2 linked regions of the Homo sapiens genome follow. Each later gene encodes a partner of the first gene's protein in a complex. Links are inferred from orthologs where the notes say so. Each region holds a gene or a part of one and is shown in the gene's direction. Other genes may lie near its edges.

Region 1 (3,749 bases):
GATTTGGGGTAGCGGGGTAACTCCAACGTAGCCCTACACGTGATTCCTTCCAGACCCTGAGCCAGGACGTTCAATCTTTCAAATTCACCCTGGAGGCTCCAGGGGCCTAGAGTTTCCATTTATTATTCACTTACATGGCGAAATCCCATCTATCTTTTTTTTTTTTCTTTTCCTTTCGAGACGTAGTCTCGCGCTGTTGCTCAGGCTGGAGTGCAATGGCAGGATTTCGGCTCACTGCAACCTTCACTTACCCACCACCACACCCGGTTAATTTTTTGTATTTAGTAGAGACGGCGGTCTCACCATATTGGTCAGGCCGGTCTCGAACTCCTAACCTCAGGTGATCCACCCGTCTTGGCCTACCAAAGTGCTAGGATTACAAGCATGAGCCACTGCGCCTGGCCTCTCTATCTTTTAAAAATAATTATAATTTGGATGAAATTTAGATGAATTCTTTTTTTTTCTTTTTTTTTTTTTTTTTTTGAGACAGAGTCTCACTCTGTTGCACAGGCTGGAGTGTGGTGGCGCGATCTCTGCTCACTGCAACCTCTGCCTCCCGGGTTCAAGCAATTCTCTGCCTCAGCCTCCCGAGTAGCTGGGGATTACAGGCGCCCGCCACCACGCCCGGTTAATTTTTGTATTTTTAGTAGAGATGGGGGTTTCACCATGTTGGCCAGGCTGGTCTTGAACTCCTGATCTCGTGATCCACCCACCTCGGCTCCCAAAGTGCTGGGATTACAGATGTGAGCCACCGCACCCAGCCTAGATGAATTCTTTAAAATAAACTTACATACATTTATTTAAAAGTTAACGTTACATGATAAACGGTGTGCATGACAAATCAGTATCCCCAGTCATGAAAAATAGCAATGGTTTCTGTCTCTTGGGAGCCAGCATTCGCATTTAATATTTTTATTTTTTATTTACTTATTTATTTTTTTGAGTCAGAGCCTCGCTCTGTGGCGCAGGCTGGAGTGCAGTGCGGTGATCTTGGCTCACTGCACGCTCCGCCTCCCGGGTTCACGCCATTCTCCTGCCTCAGCCTCCTGTGTACCTGGGACTACAGGCGCCCGCCACCACGCCCGGCTAATTTTTTGTATTTTTAGTAGAGACGGGGTTTTATCATGTTAGCCAGGATGGTCTCGATCTCCCGACCTCGTGATCCGCCTGCCTCGGCCTCCCAAAATGCTGGGATTACAGGTGTGAGTCACCGCGCCCGGCCCCGCATTTAGTCTTAATGATAATCTGGTAGGTAGGTGCTATTATATTATTACTTTTTATAGAGAGGAAACTGAACCATAGAGAACTAAGTAAGCGCCCACGGGCACTGAGCTGGTAAGAGGCAGATCCAGGGTTTGAACCCCCCAAAGACGGGTGCCACACGCCTCTTGATAGGAAGTAAATCAAAAATAAAGACAAGGAAGGCCGGGCGCGGTGGCTCACGCCTGTAATCCCAACACTTTGGGAGGCCGAGGCGGGCGGATCATGAGGTCAGGGGTTTGAGACCATCCTGGCCAACATGGTGAAACCCCATCTGTACTAAAAATACAAAAAATTAGCTGGGTATGATGGCGGGCGCCTGTAATCCCAGCTACTCGGGAGGCTGAGGCAGAATTTTTTGAACCCGGGAGGCGGAGGTTGCAGTGAGCCAAGATCGAGCTACTGCACTCCAGCCCAGGTGACAGTGAGAGACTCTGTCTCAATTAAAAAAAAAAAAAAAAAAAAAAGACAAGGAAAACCTGAGGCCTGGGCACAGCGCCTCACACCTATAATCCCAGAACTTTGGGAGGCCAATGGAGTCAGGATCTCTTAAACCCAGGTGTTCAAGACCAGCCTGGGCAACATTGCGAGACCCCATCTCTACAGAAAAACAAACAAACAAACAAAAACTAAAAATTAGCCGGGTGTGGTGGCGCCTGTCTGTGGTCCCAGCTACTCAGGAGGCTGAGGTGGGAGGATCGCTTGAGGCCAGGAGCTCAAGGCTGCAGTGAGCCGCGATTGCGCCACTGCACTCCAGCCTGGGCGTGCAGATCAGAGCGAGACCTTGTCTCTAAAGGAAAAAAAAAAAGAAAGAAAGAAAGAAAAGAAAAGAAAAGAAAACCTAGCGAGGTAGATAATTTTCCCTAGATCCTGCGGCCGCCGGACCACGAGGCCGGCGCTGTGCGTTGTTAAAAGGAGAATAGCAGATGGTGGCGCGCAGCCCCGCGAGGAGACATCCAGCAACGAAATCGGGAGATGGAAGGGACAGTGAGAAGGGGGGCCTGGCTGTGCGCCCCCGCCCGATGCCCCACTCCTCGCCGACGGGCGCCGGGCACCTGCGGGAAGGGCGGGAGAATCGCCGCTCCTTTCCCGCCGCGCCCTTTCCGCCCTCTCCCCGCCTCCTTTTCGGGCGTCCCGAGGCCGCTCCCCAACCGACAACCAAGACCCCGCAGGCCACGCAGCCCTGGAGCCGAGGCCCCCCGACGGCGGAGGCGCCCGCGGGTCCCCTACAGCCAAGGTAAGGCAGGAATCTCCTGGACTGGGTCGCGGTCCCCCGGCTTCCCGGAAGCGCAGTGCGCGGGTGGCATCACTGTGCCCGGAGCCCCTGCGCGCCCCGGCCATCCCCACCCCGAGGGACCCCCTACGGAGGCGACCTGGGGGCTGAGGTGAGCGCTTGGGCAGCAGCGACGGGGAGGGGTGTCCACCCCACCCCTGGTGCGGGCCGGGGCGCGCAGGCCTGGAACTCGGGGTTCAGACTCCCCGCGACTCGGACCACGCGGCTAAGCGCGCTCAGGGTCGCGTGCCCCCGCCCCGCCGCCATGCTGGGCGCCGTGGTGGCCGCGCAGCTGGGCGACAGCAGGCGTGGGCGGGGGTGGGGAGCGGCCCCTCAGCGGTCCCTACCGCCTGAGGCCAGGGCCCGGGGACTTTTATTGTGACACGGCGGGCGCCCGGCTCTGCTTAGTCATGGTGACCTGCGCGCGCTCCGCGCCTCCCCCACGCGCAGCGATGGAGGCGCCGGGGCTCGGGCGGTGGAGGCGGAGCCGGAGCGCGGCCATGGCGGGGTGAGTGAGGCGGGATGTGCCCGGGCTGCGGGCATCGCGGGCCGCGAGCGCCCCTGCGGCCGTGCCCGGAGACCAGGAAAACGGGCGCCACGGCCCAGGGCGCCTCCGAGTTCCCCGCCAGGACTCGGAGGGCCAGGAGGGCGCGACCTGGGTGGATATTTTTGTTGGACGGCGCAACTCTTGGGGTGGCCCGGGAGCGGCGGAAACCGAGCGAGAGAACCAGGAGGCGCTGCGCAGAAGGAGGCCCGGGGGCTCCGAGGCGTTGAGGGGCTCGATCTGCGTTCTGGGGTTGGCAGCCGAGAGGCCGCGGTGGGGTCACTTCCTCGCCTCACTGGGCCTGGTGGAGGCTCAGGAGGGGCATGCGCAGTCGCCCACTTGCCGCTTTGTAGGGTGGGGGAAGTGCCCGGTGCCCAAGGGGCATTGTTGACCGATTGGCCAAAGACCAAGAGGCAAACCCAGGGCCTTGGCACCAGAGTGGGGGCCGAGTGGCACCCAGGGAGGGTGGAGGAGGCCGCTCTGGCAGGCACGGTGGCAGGGCAGTTAGCCAACCACCCGTTTATTGACCCCTGCGCAGTGCCAGGCCCCAGGCGAGAGGCACAGGAGAGGGTTGGCCCGACGCCGACCTACATAGGTCTCCCTGCCATTTGAGGCGCTGGGGCCGGGGACGAGAGACAGTCGATCAACAGACAAGCAAAGGAGGTCATTTCA
Region 2 (3,749 bases), on another chromosome or scaffold:
GTATAGAAACATCCTGTAAGGATCAAGTAGCAGCAACAGAAGTAGTAGCAGGAGAACCAAGTAGCAGGGATTACTGGCGTTACTGTGTGTGGCAAGCACTGTTTTAAGAACATATACTGACTGATTTAATTAACACAACTATATTAATTAGTTACCATTATCCCTGTTTTATCTACGATGAGCAACTGAAGCTCACAAAGGTTAAATAATTTGCCCAGATCACTCAGAAAATTGGAGGAGCTAAGATCTGAACCCATGTGGTCTAGTTCAAATTGTGCATCAAAGTGATCTCTGAAATAAGATAAATATTTACTTAACTTGATTATAAATATTTTATGAACATCAATTATTGAATATTTAGCTTGGCAATGGAATATTTAACCATTTTTGTTTTCCTTTGTGTCATTCCCTTTTATCAGGTTGCCCACATTCCCAAATCAGATGCTTTGTACTTTGATGACTGCATGCAGCTTTTGGCGCAGACATTCCCGTTTGTAGATGACAATGAGGTGAGGTATAAAATAACCTGGTTAATAGAAAAACTCCATCATAACTATAAAATAACAATCTATTCTATGTAAGTCCCGTCAATGAATCTCCATTTAAAAGAATAAAAACATTTTTAGGAGGAAATTTTTTAACCAAGGAAATACTCTTGTCAAGGAAACCTTAGCCTATAAATAACTTTACAATTAAGAAAAAAAAAAACCCTTCACACAATACAAAACCAAAACCATTGACTATTGCATAGCCAGAAACATGGACAGCATAACCATGGAAACAAATAACCCATTTGCTGCAAGTATCTAAGAGGTTTGGTGAGTAAAGAGCCAGCTGGGCAATAAACGAAGACTTGTTCAGTTAACAATTTTAATAAATCTGTTTTATCTAGTACCACTGTGCTAGATATTATATAAACTAAATCCTAAAGATTGTACTTACGCATTTTAAAGTTTACTTTCAAATGCTTAAGCTGAAACAGACCAGCAAATTATAAATTTGAGTCAGTGGGGTAGGAAAAAAAGATTTGTTATTTACAAACGGGGTCATGACTGGTTAGTAAGTAGAGAGACACAGAACTGCAGCTGATTCCATTTTGTTTTGTAGTGGTGCCTTAGAGCTTACTCATCCCCTGTTGGTGGAAGACTCATAAATCAATGCCTTATCAATTTTAGGTTTCTTCGGCTACGTTTCAGTCACTTGTTCCTGATATTCCCGGTCACATCGAGAGCCCAGTCTTCATTGCTACTAATCAGGCTCAGTCACCTGAAACTTCTGTTGCTCAGGTAGCCCCTGTTGATTTAGACGGTATGCAACAGGACATTGAGCAAGTTTGGGAGGAGCTATTATCCATTCCTGAGTTACAGGTAACTAAAATAGAATGTAATACTGGAGATTTTTTTTATATTCAGTGCCTTTAGTCATTCTGATTATTTATATACCACCTATTTATAGGAAGGATTGGAGGGTGCTATTAACTTAGTCATGAGTACTGCCCATGCTAGTTAAATTGGTTGGACATCTTGAGGATAGAATGTTATAAACCTGACGTCTGATCTGGGAACTCTGAAAATAATACATAACGCTTAGGCGTAAATATGTATTGGAAATGAGAATTATCTCTGAATTATAGATAATAAATTATAGAGATAAGCCTGAAGATAATGTGGGTAGGGAGTTTATCTAAATTTATCACGTATTATCATGGATTAACTTTGATTTATATAGTATAAACTTCCTTCTCATGCAGTGTCTTAATATTGAAAATGACAAGCTGGTTGAGACTACCATGGTTCCAAGTCCAGAAGCCAAACTGACAGAAGTTGACAATTATCATTTTTACTCATCTATACCCTCAATGGAAAAAGAAGTAGGTAACTGTAGTCCACATTTTCTTAATGCTTTTGAGGATTCCTTCAGCAGCATCCTCTCCACAGAAGACCCCAACCAGTTGACAGTGAACTCATTAAATTCAGATGCCACAGTCAACACAGATTTTGGTGATGAATTTTATTCTGCTTTCATAGCTGAGCCCAGTATCAGCAACAGCATGCCCTCACCTGCTACTTTAAGCCATTCACTCTCTGAACTTCTAAATGGGCCCATTGATGTTTCTGATCTATCACTTTGCAAAGCTTTCAACCAAAACCACCCTGAAAGCACAGCAGAATTCAATGATTCTGACTCCGGCATTTCACTAAACACAAGTCCCAGTGTGGCATCACCAGAACACTCAGTGGAATCTTCCAGCTATGGAGACACACTACTTGGCCTCAGTGATTCTGAAGTGGAAGAGCTAGATAGTGCCCCTGGAAGTGTCAAACAGAATGGTCCTAAAACACCAGTACATTCTTCTGGGGATATGGTACAACCCTTGTCACCATCTCAGGGGCAGAGCACTCACGTGCATGATGCCCAATGTGAGAACACACCAGAGAAAGAATTGCCTGTAAGTCCTGGTCATCGGAAAACCCCATTCACAAAAGACAAACATTCAAGCCGCTTGGAGGCTCATCTCACAAGAGATGAACTTAGGGCAAAAGCTCTCCATATCCCATTCCCTGTAGAAAAAATCATTAACCTCCCTGTTGTTGACTTCAACGAAATGATGTCCAAAGAGCAGTTCAATGAAGCTCAACTTGCATTAATTCGGGATATACGTAGGAGGGGTAAGAATAAAGTGGCTGCTCAGAATTGCAGAAAAAGAAAACTGGAAAATATAGTAGAACTAGAGCAAGATTTAGATCATTTGAAAGATGAAAAAGAAAAATTGCTCAAAGAAAAAGGAGAAAATGACAAAAGCCTTCACCTACTGAAAAAACAACTCAGCACCTTATATCTCGAAGTTTTCAGCATGCTACGTGATGAAGATGGAAAACCTTATTCTCCTAGTGAATACTCCCTGCAGCAAACAAGAGATGGCAATGTTTTCCTTGTTCCCAAAAGTAAGAAGCCAGATGTTAAGAAAAACTAGATTTAGGAGGATTTGACCTTTTCTGAGCTAGTTTTTTTGTACTATTATACTAAAAGCTCCTACTGTGATGTGAAATGCTCATACTTTATAAGTAATTCTATGCAAAATCATAGCCAAAACTAGTATAGAAAATAATACGAAACTTTAAAAAGCATTGGAGTGTCAGTATGTTGAATCAGTAGTTTCACTTTAACTGTAAACAATTTCTTAGGACACCATTTGGGCTAGTTTCTGTGTAAGTGTAAATACTACAAAAACTTATTTATACTGTTCTTATGTCATTTGTTATATTCATAGATTTATATGATGATATGACATCTGGCTAAAAAGAAATTATTGCAAAACTAACCACTATGTACTTTTTTATAAATACTGTATGGACAAAAAATGGCATTTTTTATATTAAATTGTTTAGCTCTGGCAAAAAAAAAAAATTTTAAGAGCTGGTACTAATAAAGGATTATTATGACTGTTAAATTATTTGTTTGGGATTCCTTTGAGTTTATTCACACAGTATTTTCCATAAGATAATCATCCATTTAATTTAGATGTTTTGCATTTTCAGAATGTTTTATTTGAAAATATAAAAATAATTTTATACTACATTTCTAGTACCAGGGTTACAGAGAAATAAAGTATATCAAGAGGATACTTTGCCTCTTCAATAGCAGGTACATCTAAACCCAAGAAAATGTTACACACTGACATGAAAGCACTGATTCATTTATTTCCATCAGTAGACATACGCCCACTATACCCTAGGCAGAGTTTGAAG

Evidence for each region.
Region 2: the proteins of KEAP1 (region 1) and NFE2L2 are in contact, whole or in part, in a crystal structure (PDB 3WN7), measured with the Mus musculus proteins. The link is inferred for Homo sapiens from one-to-one orthologs. Residues at the interface, in NP_001103775.1 of Mus musculus: Tyr334, Ser363, Gly364, Arg380, Asn382, Pro384, Asp385, Gly386, Asn387, Asn414, Arg415, Ser431, Gly433, Cys434, His436, Ile461, Phe478, Gly480, Arg483, Ser508, Gly509, Tyr525, Gln530, Ser555, Ala556, Tyr572, Phe577, Ser602, Gly603; in NP_035032.1 of Mus musculus: Leu19, Ile22, Leu23, Arg25, Gln26, Asp27, Ile28, Asp29, Leu30, Gly31, Val32, Val36, Phe37, Phe39.

Annotation. Positions count from the first base shown.
Region 1 is NC_000019.10:10,501,989-10,505,737, reverse strand, and holds the start of KEAP1 (kelch-like ECH-associated protein 1), read left to right. Parts: upstream 1-2,381; 5' UTR 2,382-2,497; intron 2,498-2,966; exon of another isoform or gene 2,967-3,041; intron 3,042-3,749. UniProt on the Homo sapiens protein: Substrate-specific adapter of a BCR (BTB-CUL3-RBX1) E3 ubiquitin ligase complex that regulates the response to oxidative stress by targeting NFE2L2/NRF2 for ubiquitination.
Region 2 is NC_000002.12:177,230,010-177,233,758, reverse strand, and holds the end of NFE2L2 (nuclear factor erythroid 2-related factor 2), read left to right. Parts: intron 1-419; coding exon 420-509; intron 510-1,175; coding exon 1,176-1,367; intron 1,368-1,750; coding exon 1,751-2,974; 3' UTR 2,975-3,451; downstream 3,452-3,749.